2 linked regions of the Homo sapiens genome follow. The protein of the gene in region 1 interacts with the protein of each later gene in a biochemical or structural test. Each region holds a gene or a part of one and is shown on either strand. Other genes may lie near its edges.

Region 1 (7,942 bases):
GATTTTATAAAGCCAGGCCAAAACCTGGCAAAGATACAAGAAAAGAAAACAATACACTGATTGCCTGTATGTTCATTTTTCATGAACATACAGGCAAAAATCTTTATCAAGATGTTAGTAAATAAAATCCAGCAGAATATAAGAAAGACAAAACCAAGTTGAATTTGTTAGCATTACACTAAATGGAGAAACATTGAACACTTTTCCCTCTAATATCAGGAACAAGGCAAGATGTTCATTCACTGCTTCTATTCAATATTGTGCAAGATGACCTAGACTACGCAACCACACAAGTAAAAGAAAAAGGCATAAATATTGGAAAGAAAGAAGTAAAACTGATTCTATTTACAAAGTATATGCATATTAATACAGAAAATCCTAAGGAATCGGCCGGGCGCGGTGGCTCACGCCTGTAATCCCAGCACTTTGGGAGGCCGAGGCGGGTGGATCATGAGGTCAGGAGATCGAGACCATCCTGGCTAACAAGGTGAAACCCCGTCTCTACTAAAAATACAAAAAATTAGCCGGGCGCGGTGGCGGGCGCCTGTAGTCCCAGCTACTCGGGAGGCTGAGGCAGGAGAATGGCGTGAACCCGGGAAGCGGAGCTTGCAGTGAGCCGAGATTGCGCCACTGCAGTCCGCAGTCCGGCCTGGGCGACAGAGCGAGACTCCGTCTCAAAAAAAAAAGAAAATCCTAAGGAATCTACAACCCCCGCCCCTACAAAACAAATAATAGCACTAATAAGTGAAAGTCTCAATGTCACTATACAAAATCAATTATATTTCTCTACATTAACAGCAAATCAATGGAAAATAAAATAACATTCACAAGACTCAAAGAATAAAATACTTAGGAATATATTTATCAAAATGCATTCAGTGCTTTAAACTATGAATTCTCCCCAAATTAAACTACAGGTTCACAATTCCAGCAGGTATTTTTACAAAGTTGATAAGTCAATTCTAAAATTTATATAGAAATAGAAAGAACCTGGAATAGAAAAACAATTTTGAAAAAGAAGAAAGGGTAGACAATATACATTATTTGACTTCAGGAATTATCCTCAAGCAATAGTCATCAAGGAAGTGTGATACTAGCATAAAGATTGATAGATAAATGGATCATTAGAACAGAATAGAGACCCCAGATATAGGTCCACCTTATATGGTGAACTTATTTTTGACAAAGGCACTAGAGCTGATCAATGGCAGTAATTTTTTGTAAGCCCTACTTTTTTCCAACAAATGATGCTGTAGCAACTGGATATCTATATGGGAAGAATGAACTTTGACTCTTACCTAAAACTATACACAAAAGTTAATTCAAGATGCATCATAGACCTAAACATAAAACTACTAAAATTTTGGACAAAAATATGGGTGAATATCTGAGAGTAGGCAAAGATTTTTTAGAACCCAGAAAAAAAACAAATTGATAAATTAGACTTCATCAAAATTAAAAATTTCTGCTTATCAAAACCATCATTAACAAACAGGCAAGCCACAGACTGGAAGAAAATATTTATGAAACATGTACCTAGCAAAGGACTGTATCCAGCATATCTAAATCTCCTATAATTCAATATTAAAAAGCAAAGACAAAAAATGTGGATGTTTCACAAAAGAAGAGGTACAAATGACCACTAAGCACATGAAAACACAATCAACTCTATTAATCACCAGGAAAATGCATACAAGTCACAATGAGATACAACTATTAGAATAGCTAAAATCTGGAAGGCCGGCAACATCAAATGTTAACAAGGATGTGGAGCAACTAGAACTCTTATATATTGCTCTTAAGAACATAAAATAATACGACCACATTGGAAAAACTTGTGACAATCTAATAAAATTAAATATGCATCTATTGTTTGACTCAGTAATTCCGCACCTAGATATTTACCCAAGAGAAATGAAAACATATAGCTACAAAAAAAGATGTATGAGAATGTTCACAGCAGCATTATTCATAATGGTCTACAATATGAAACAACCCAAATGTCTATCAACTAGTGAATAAATTAATAAATTATAGTATATTCACACAATGGGATACTTCAGAGCAAAAAAGGGCAAGTTTCTGATATGTGAAACAATATGGATTAATCTCTCACACATTATGGTCAATTAAAGACATCAGACACAGAGTACATATTACATTATTTCATTTATACAACAGTCTAGATCTAAGAGGAAAATAAATGAGAATAGTGATCGCCTGGTTGTGGAGGGTGGGATGACCGGGATGACATGCAAGGGAACTTTGTGGAGTCAGGGGAAAATGTTCTTTATCTTGCTTGGTGTTGGGGTTACAAAAGGATATTGCTTTGTCGAAACCCATTGAACTATACATTTTTGTTCATTTTAATGTATGCAAAATTTATTTCCCTCAAAGAAATGAACTTTAATAAAGCAAGAAAAATATATGATCATACATACACAATACTAGGGCCTCTTGCAGGGCACTTAAAGAGCCCAACAGAGAAAGGGGCTAAACTCACTTGAAGCTTCATTAGCTATGTAGAAAATCTGCCTCTGCCCCCAGCTCACATTCTGGCCCAACACTCACTTAGTTGTGTGACCATGGACAAGCTGTTTGATATCTCAGTCCCTTGAATCCCACATGTGAAAATTCTGAATAACTATAGAACCTATCTCACTAAATTGGTGAATAAATTCCATGAGATAAATTAGAACTAACTGGTACATAGTGAGTGCTCAACAAACATAAACTATTATCATTATTGTGCAGACACAGTTTTCAAAAGAAAACTGTTTGGGAAATTCTTCCAAGGGCCATGAAGAGCCTACTGAAGTGTCCTGAGAAGAGAAGGGACACAGTCAGATTTGCCTTTCAGAAATAATGACTGGGCCGAGTGCAGTGGCTCACACCTGTAATCCCAGCACTTTGGAAGGCTGAGGCGGGCGGATCACGAGGTCAGGAGTTCGAGACCAGCATGACCAACATGGTGAAACCTCGTCTCTACTAAAAATAAAAAAATTAGCTGGGTGTGGTGGCGCACGCCTGTAATCCCAGCTACTCAGGAGGCTGAGGCAGGAGAATCGCCTGAACCCGGGAGGCGGAGGTTGCAGTGAGCCAAGATCACGCCACTGCACTCCAGCCTGGGTGAAAGAGCGAGACTCCGTCTGGAAAAAAAAAGAAAAAGAAAAAAGAAAGAAAGAATGACTGAAGCAGCAGTGGGGAGGATGAATTGGTCGGGGAGGAGGGAAGAACGGATTTGGAGTCCTTTCAGGACTGTCCTAACATGAAAATGGATGAGACATTATTGATCTAAGGAATTTTTTAGAAATAAAATAGTTTTATTCAAAGGATATAGAATTTCAACATTTTAATAAAAATCTAAATAAAAATAAAAGTAAAACTTAAAATGATTTTTCACATTTAAAGATATTAAAATAAATTCAAAATTGCCTAGTAAAATAAAAGCCAAATAAATTATAATTAATATCAAATCTTGAAATAAAAGTGTTTAAAAATATAATTGTTCAATATTGCAGAAGGTTCTTAAGCAACCCACCCTGCTCATGTTGAATTGTAAGTACTTCTCCAGAACTGCACACTGGAACGGGAAGAGAAATAACATGGACTTTCACACCATTAGGAAAGGAGACTTCATTATACTGAGCCCGTCTACTCCTGCACACTCCTGGGGTGGGATTGTGGGTCACAGGGAGACGTACGTGCATACTGCCGAAGAGCTCCCAAGTGGCTGGCTGCACCAGTTAACACTCCCCTGAGCAGTGTAGGGGAGTCTCAGAGGGTCACTTGGCATTTTCCATCATTTTCATTTTAGCCATTTTTGCAGGTGTGCGCAATGCTGTTTTTATAACCAACACATCATTTTTCTCTTCCTTTCCTGGAGGGGGAACCCAGCTTTTCTAGGCCCTCCACCCTTTGGGCAGGAGGAACTGGGTGTGTGGGGCGGGGGGAAGCCATCTCTGGGTGGTTGGTCAGCTGGGGCCTAACCACAGGAGGCAGATAGACTGAGGCTATGCCAAGCAGAAAGACTTATCAGGCACCTCTTGCCTTTCCTCATCTCTGCCGGTTCAAATCCTGCTCGCCCCGCAAGGGCAGATTGGAATTTACCTTCTCCAGAAAGCCTGGGGTGACTCTATCCCCTCACTCCTCCTCCCCCGTTCGCCAGCTTTTGTCTTGACATCGGCGGACCAAGAATGTGTGACTCTGGGCAAATCATTAACCTCTCTGGGCCTATTTCCTTATCTGGGGAACATCTGCACTTGAGCAACAGAAGTCTAAGATCCCTATCTGATTTGATGTTTTGCGACCCTTTTAAGGCGCAGGGCGCGAAAGAACAGAAACAGAAGTGTCCGTTCAAGTAGGTCGGCCGGGGTGTCACTCGTATAAAAACCTATGCTTTGAAGGTTCTCGTGTGTCTCGGCCTGCAGGTCTCGCTCAGAGCTGTGTCCCTGAACATCCACCCTGCTGGGGTGGCTTGACGCACTTCTGTGCAAATCTGTTCGCTCGCAACCCTACCTACCTCTCTCCCGAACCGGAGAAAACCTTCGGCGGGGTCCTTCCGGGTTTTGTGTCGAATCTGCGGCGGCGACCCGGCGCCGCGTCACGCGGTGGTGAATGTGCGGCAGCACGCGCGCCGCGTCGTTTACGCGGCGATTTCATCATGCTCCGAGCCGGGCGGCGCGCGCCGCTTCCGTCGCCACCCTCTCTGGACAGCCCAGGGCCGCAGGCTCATGCCCTCTCCGCGTCCAGTGCTGCTTAGAGGTGCTCGCGCCGCTCTGCTGCTGCTGCTGCCGCCCCGGCTCTTAGCCCGACCCTCGCTCCTGCTCCGCCGGTCCCTCAGCGCGGCCTCCTGCCCCCCGATCTCCTTGCCCGCCGCCGCCTCCCGGAGCAGCATGGACGGCGCGGGGGCTGAGGAGGTGCTGGCACCTCTGAGGCTAGCAGTGCGCCAGCAGGTACCGGTGTTTTGCGCTCTCCGCTAAGCCTCCGGCTCTCCTCCCAGGGCCTTCTTCTGGTCATCCTTCCCTCCTCCCCGGGGAACTGTCCTCCTCTTCGGTTACCCCTTTCTTTCCCTTCATCCTCTGGCGTCTTCTTCGCCTCCCCCACTTTGGTCCCAAGTCCCCCGTGCGTCAGCCACCTCCTCTCCCGCGGACCTCCGTCCTCCTCTCTTTTTGGATGACTCCCTGGAACCCCTCCGACTTCCTGCGTCCCTCTCCGGCTCCGTTCTCCCTTCCCCATTCTGTCACAGCCCGCGTCTCCTCTATTTCCAGTGGGGCTGGGATCTGTGACCCTTTGGTTGTCCTCGCCTCCTAACTGAATAACCTTAACTTCAGTTTTCCAGGCTCTGCTGTACTCTTTGTGCACCCTGGGTGGAAAGCCTCCTAATTCTTTCAGTGGTCAATGATGAGCCGAAAAACTGCCGGTTCTTTCGTCTTACGGCCAGGCCCTTTAATCTTTAGGATGCTTTGATAGTGTTTCCCCCTTAACATCTTCCTTCATTCAGTGCTTAGTTTAGCGGAATGATTGGCTGAGAAAATAGAATTGAAATGTGGATGTGGGGAGGTGTCGAACTTTTCTATTAATGCTGTGAACTCATCATCCTTTGCTCTTGTCATCTTTTCTGGCTTCTGAAAAGGCCGTTTGGAACCAGTGAGCCCTCAGATCGTAAACCTGGGAAACTAAGTGTTGCGGAGTGAAGTCAGCCATCCTTAGTATGGAATATTTTGACATTTGATTTTCCCGAAGGTGAGGGAAGGTTTCATGGGCTGAAGGACTTGGTGATTTAATATAGACCTCCTTTTCCTAGGGCACTGCCATAGAGTTTAGAATTTAGAGATATCAAGGAAAAGATTATTTCAGATGATTCCCATATGCAATTAGGGAGAGCCAGAGCTTGCAGTAGGACCCCGGAGATCATGACTTAGTAGTAAACACCAAACGGGTTTCTCCTGCATGGGCGCCTGATGCAATAATTTGCCTTAGCTACAGAGGGTGGAACCCTATCTCGGAAATAATTCATTGGGGCATAGCTGCCGCAAATTCAGCCACTTTGCCATCTGTCCTCTTCGCTGGTTTGAGCCTGACCGATTTTAATAAATAGCCTTTCATTTTGAAATATCACCACGGGCTTAACTTTTTTCTTCATGATTGGTGTCAGAACACCGATTGCATATTCTGTCTCCCTCCACCCACCTTCCACTCCACAAATAAAATTAGGTGTGGTTCCTTTGTCTTTTCTTAACTTGCCATTTTAAAAAATATCCTTCCCTTTAGAAGGAAGCATACAACTAATTTGGAGAAAAAAAAAAACCACCACACCCAAACCCCTCCCTCTGCCACGTTAGCCTGGAACTGCAGTGAAAATCATCCATCGGTAGTTAAGACAGGATCTAGTTAACTAAAGTAAACTTTGATCGCGGCAGCTTTCCGATGCTACTAACTACTGTCTTGTGTATTGTTTATGTTGTCTTGATTATTGTTTTGTACTTTAAGATATTTTCCGAATATACGAGTTAGTTGATTTAAGTTAGTTTGGATATTTTTTTCTAATTTTCCAAGAACACACATATATCAGTTAGTTAATTGTGTGAATTACTGAGTCCTATGTCAGCTGAAAAATAATTTAAAGATGATCTAATTTTACCCATTTTTTGTATATGGGGAAATGAGACACACTGTCACCCCTATCCATTTTGGATAACTCCATTGTGAAGTGCAATTGAAAACCTTTCCGGAGTGGGATTTTTACTTAATGACTGGTCTTGTTAGTAGCACATGTTTCATAGAAATTTGTTAATCTGGAAAATGAATGAAGTGAGTTTGTCACTTTAAGAAAACAACGGTTAGTATTTGTGGCCAATAATAAAATTCAAACTTTGGGGAAATTTTAGAATTTGGGAAGACTCGTATCTTTTGCTGTGAGCTTGGCAGCTTCACAGTCCTTAAAGATATCTGTGATGAGATGAGTGGTGATATTAACAAACGTGGATTTTTTTTTGATAGTATTTGGATAATCTGCGTAACTCAGTGAACCAGTGTTTTCCAGGTGACCAATGCATGATGTTATGAAATCAGGTATTGGTGAAAGAGCCATTCAAAGCTTAAGATACATTAATAGATTTATTCTGACAGTACAAAAAATTCATTGCTATAGTTTCTGAGTTAGAAATAACCTTGAAGAAGCTACCACTTGTCAGAGTTTTGAGGTAGTATCAAAGAATATCCACAATTATCCGAAACGGCTTTTAAAATTATTTTTCCTTTTCCACCTACATATGTCTTTCTTCATATACTTTACCCAGAACGTCATATTACAAAAGAAGCAGACTTTCCACATTGGTCTTTTAGGATTTTTCACAGATTAAGGTTACCAAAATAGTAAGTGCCAAACTCAAAATTTAAAAACCCATGAGGAAACAAGCCACCTTGAGTGAGACTTAGGGGAAATGATAATAGAATTAGATCCTCCAAAAGTATTAGAATAATCACATATTTTTAAAATGCTTAAGATAATTTTTAAAATAAAAGAAGTACTCAAAAACATGAGCAAAGAACAAGAGACTACCAAAAACAATCACACAGTGTGAAAATGAAGCACATATTGTATGGAAATGGATCACTGAAATTAGAAACTCTGTTGGGTGCCCAAGGGCTATATCAATTTAACAACTTTAATTACTCAGCTGAAAGTTTTTCATCCTATATAGGTAATATTTTGTTTGTTTACTCAGATGACCTATTCCACCATATTACTATAAATATGGAATTAGTATAAGTTGTTGGAAGTTAATAAAATAATTCAGAAATATTAGCAAGGAAAAAATTCCAACTGTAAAGAGAAAGGCAAAGGAAGATGAGCCAGCAGTGACTGAGAAGAATGGTCAGAGAAGTGGGAGGAAAACTGAATAATGTTTTTATTTTTTTTTGTAAGCGAGAGGAGAGA
Region 2 (4,892 bases), on another chromosome or scaffold:
GGGAAGGTCCCCGATACAGTGAAGAACAGCCAAAGAATGGCTGACACATTAGCGTCTGGAAAACCAAGTCCCTGTGAGGTACCCTAGCAAATCTAACAGGTTCTCACTTAAGAGACGCTGGCCTCAGAGACAGTTGCAGCAGATTAGGGGCCTTAGCTACTAAGAGTCATGCACCACGGACCACGTTCCTCAGCCCTAAGTATTAATACATCAAGCCCAAAACCGGGAACTGCCCCCACTTCTGGATTCTGGATTTCCACTCTGTTTGCATCTACTACTTCCTTTTTTTTTTTGCCCTCTAATATGCTGGTGAATGCTATTAGTCCCATGTGATTAAATTTAAGAGTATATATAATATGAGTAGAATGACCCCATAAAATTTCAAGAAGTAGGTTAGGCAGCCAAAACTCAAGTTAATTAAGATAATACTACATACAAGGGGATGGTCTTGTTTTCTGGGAAAACTACATATCCAGAAATATCTTTTTAAATTCTATTCATTTTAACAAATGATGATGGTCCTAAAATGTCCATAGCTAACATCTGCACATGGCTTAAATTCATTATTGAAGATGGTAAGAAAAAAAATTTTTAATTATCTCTAATAAAACACAAGGATAATCTATGACAAGTAACTTTGAAATAGCAAGCCAATATTGATGCTCAGTGAGAAATGGATAGGATTCATTTTCTAGGAAAATGACTGTCTCCTTTCCCCTCCCCACAAAGAACAAGACTACATTATTACAAATGAGAAAAATGTTTATTAAGAAAACAATTTAGCAGCTCTCCTTTAGAATTTTACAGACTAAAGCACAACCCGAAGGCAATTACAGTTTCAATCATTAACACACTACTTAAGGTGCTTGCTTACTCTACAACTGGAAAGTTGCTGAAGTTTGTGACATGCCACTGTAAATGTAAGTATTATTAAAAATTACAAATTGTTTGGTGATTATTTTGATGACCTCTTGAGCAGCAGCTCCTGAAAGGAAAAAGGAGAAAAGCAAATCTTTGAAAGAGTAAACTTCAAGAGTTACATACTCAATTCTGTAAAGAAACTTTTCCTTTTCAAAAGCAAAGGTGTTTTAAAGTGACCCAAAACAGATGCAGTTAGCTTACTGAGTCATATCAACATAAAAGCCTATAATTCTTTTTGTTATTAAAGGAAATCTAAACAGTAGTGTGGTTGACCAAACTTTAAAGGATACACACAGGCATAAAAGATTCTCAAAGGACACCCTACTGCTGCATTTGAATTTTACCTTGTATCTGTTTTATAATAAAAAAGGAGAAAGGTATATTTGTTCTGAATGCATTTGTAATTTAGGAAGGATCTATATTAAATATCGCCAGACCGCTATATTTACTCAAAACAAAAAAACTACTAAGAAAAAAACTTGTGCATCTTCTATAACCTGAAGATTCCTCTTTCCCAAATATTCATGGACTGGATAGAATTTTTTTTTTTTTTTAGACTAGAGTCTCACTCTGTCACCCAGGCTGGAGTGCAGTGGCGTGATCTCGGCTCACTGCAACCTCCTCCTCCCAAGTTCAAGTGATTCTCTTGCCTCAGCCTCCCAAGTAGCTGGGATTACAGATGCCTGCCACCACACCTGGATAATTTTTTTGTATTTTTAGTAGAGATGGAGTTTCACCATGTTGGCCAGGATGGTTTTGAACTCCTGACCTCAAGTGATCCGCCCACCTCAGCCTCCCAAAGCGGAGGCCTTACAAGCATTAGCCACCGCGCTCAGCCGACTGGATAGAATTTGAGACTACTGTGCACCAAATACTGTTCTAGGCAGTAGGGATACAGTAAGGAAAAAAGACAAGAAGATCCACTTACCCTCATGCTACTTTTTAGCAGCAAGAGAGAGAGAATTTATTTACAAATAAATAGAATGTGTAGTATGTCAACTGACCATAGGTGCTAAGGAGAAAAAGCAAATAAGGGAGATATAAATACAAGAGAAGGGGTTTGTATTTTAAATAGGAGAGTCAGGGATGGCATCGCAGAGAAGACAGCATTTGAATAAAACCTGAAGGAAGTGAAGGGATATAATGGCACTGTGCAAAATGATTACAGAATGCACAGAAGTAAAAAACAAAAAAAAAAAAACAAAGAAAACCTTCAATTTATACTTTTTTCTGCTATAGTTAAGTCATCCAGTCCATCCATCTGGCTGTACCTCTTCTTAGATTCTGGACTGCATCTGAATAAATAATAATTTGCCCTTTTCTGTGAATTGGCAGAAAATTTTGCTACTTTGGCACAAGAGACTACTTGGTTTTAGTTTAAAATAAATTATTCTGAATCAGGCTTTAATTTGGATTTGCTTAGAAAATAGTTTTCTTAGGTCTGTATGATGCATTTACATTTTGAACACTTCAAATATTAATTAGACCTAAATCTGCCTTTAAAACATTCAACATCTAGAAGGAAAATGCCACAAGCTAATAGCTCAGTCTACAGGAGATCACAGGACAGTAATTTTTTTTGAGGGGTGTTATGGACTGAATGGTTCGTTTCCCCCTCAAATTCATATGTTGAAATCCTAACCCCCAGTGTAATTGTATGAGGATAGGGCCTTTGGTAGGTGATTAGGTCAAGAGCGTAGAACCTTCATGAATAGGATTAGTGCCCTAAGAAGAGACCCCAGAGACTTCTCTTGCCATTTTTTTTTTCACCATGTGAGAACACAGAAGAGAGAGCTGCCTATGAACCAGGAAATGGGCGCTCACCAGACCTGACCATGCTGGCACCCTGATCCCAGACTTCTAGCCTCCAGAACTCTGTGACAAATTTTTATTGTTTATAAGTCTATGATATTCTGTTACAGCAGCCCAAACTGACTAAGACAAGGGGGAAGTAGAGTGAGGGAGGGAAGTAAAGGGAGCTTTTATGAAAGACATGTCATTTTTGAGTTGGGTCTTGAAGAACATATAGGTTTTGGACATGCAGAAAAACATATTTTTAAGGCAAATAGGCACAGAGGAGCAAAGATCTAGGAGCAGGAAATCAAAGGGCATCCTGGGGGGAAAGCAAGTAATATGATAAAACCAAGGCTGGAAAGGCCGAGTGGAACCAAAACACAGGGTTTTTTAACGTCAAGCCAAAGTCCTTGGACTTGCTTGGAGGACTGTTGTAGAGTGTTATGTATATTGGTGGGGCAGAGGGTTAGTAAAAGGACACAATCAGAGCTATGCTTTAGAAGGATTAATGACTCTTAAGGAGTTTAAGTTGGATGGCAGTGGGAGAGATGGAAGGCAGGGAGACCAGTATAGGGGCAACTGAATAAATATCCTAACCTGAGCAACATAGTGGGACCCTGTCTCTACAAAAAATTGAAAAATTAGCCAGGCTTACTGGCACATGCCTGTAGTCCCAGCTATTCAGGAGGCGGAGGCGAGAGATCACTTGAGCCCAGGAGTTTGAGGTTGCAGCGAGCTATGATGGCATCAATACACTCCAACCTGGGCAAAACAGTGAGACTGCGTCTCAAAAAAAAAAAAAAGAAAGAAATATAACATCCTGCTTCACTGACCTCCCTAATTAAAATAGCTAGACGACAAAACTTTGTATTAAAATAGTAACTGTACTATGTAACAACAGGTGAGTCTTCTCATATATGGAACTCACCCCCCAAGAATGCAGCAATGGTATGTGGCTCAGCAGCTCCATATCGGCAACTAAAGGAGACCACAGAGACATGAATTTTGATTAGCCTTATGACAGGTGTGGAATCATCTCCTAGATACCCTAAAAAATACTCACAATTCGTGGACATAATCATCTTTCACCATTACAGATAAACCATATTCCTGAAGGAAGCCAGTGAGACAAGACTTCAACTTTCCTATATCTTCTTCAACTTGATAGTTAGATACTCCTAAAAATAAAAGTTAGTTTTCATTAAAATAAATGTGATTCAAAATTAATGGCCAACTCCTTTATTTAATCTAGTTTCAGATGTTCTAGTCAAAATATGTATGAAACTGAAGAACAAAAATAACAAAGTATGAGACCAATATTTGCACATATCACAAACCTATAATCAGAGACCAACTAAAACCTAGTAAAAATTTGAATTTAATTAAATCTTTATTAATTGCATCATATTCACTGTCTAGAAAAGCATCTGGCACATAGTGCTTAATAATTATTTGATAGAAGAACTTAATGAATGAGAAAGTAATGTCCTACTTATACCCTTTATAAAAGTTATTCTCCAATTCTAAAAGACTAAATGATAAATGACACTGAGGACATAAAGCTATTAATAATAGGTAACTTTTTTTTTTTCTTTTGAGAGAGAGTCTTGCTGTTACCTAGGCTGGAGTGCAGTGGTGCAGTCTCGGCTCACCGCAACCTCTGCCTGCCGGGTTCAAATGATTCTCATGCCTCAGCCTCCCAAGAAACTGAGACTACAGGAGTGCGCCACCACACACAGCTAATTTTTTCTATTTTTAGTTTCAGTGTTGGCTAGGCTGGTCTCGAACTCCTGGCCTCAAGTGATCCACCCGCCTTGGCCTCCCAAAGTGCTGGGATTACAGGTGTGAGCCACCATGCCTGGCCAATAATAGGTCACATTTATTGAGCATTAATAGATGCTGGACACTGTTCTAAGGACCTTATATCTATATTAATTGATTGAATCCTCAAAACAGTCCTATGAAGTATGTATAGTTATCTCCATTTATAGAAGAGAAAACTAAAGCACAGAGAGATTAAGTTACTTAGCTCATAAGTGATGCTGTATGACTTCCAAAGCTAGGTCATAAAAAGCCCTGTACCTTCCACTTGGGTTTTTTGGAATGTTAACTGCAGAAGCCAACTGACATGCCAAAAGGAAGTCCAAGCTAGCCACGTGAAGAGATACCTGACCAGC

Evidence for each region.
Region 2: the proteins of GARS1 (region 1) and NAE1 form a complex in vitro, tested with the Homo sapiens proteins (one study listed by BioGRID).

The regions. Positions count from the first base shown.
Region 1 is NC_000007.14:30,590,189-30,598,130, forward strand, and holds the start of GARS1 (glycine--tRNA ligase isoform 1 precursor), read left to right. Parts: upstream 1-4,689; 5' UTR 4,690-4,733; coding exon 4,734-4,955; intron 4,956-7,942. UniProt on the Homo sapiens protein: Catalyzes the ATP-dependent ligation of glycine to the 3'-end of its cognate tRNA, via the formation of an aminoacyl-adenylate intermediate (Gly-AMP).
Region 2 is NC_000016.10:66,802,134-66,807,025, forward strand, and holds the end of NAE1 (NEDD8-activating enzyme E1 regulatory subunit), read right to left. Parts: intron 3,894-4,892; coding exon 3,779-3,893; intron 3,694-3,778; coding exon 3,644-3,693; intron 986-3,643; coding exon 876-985; 3' UTR 745-875; downstream 1-744. UniProt on the Homo sapiens protein: Regulatory subunit of the dimeric UBA3-NAE1 E1 enzyme. E1 activates NEDD8 by first adenylating its C-terminal glycine residue with ATP, thereafter linking this residue to the side chain of the catalytic cysteine, yielding a NEDD8-UBA3 thioester and free AMP.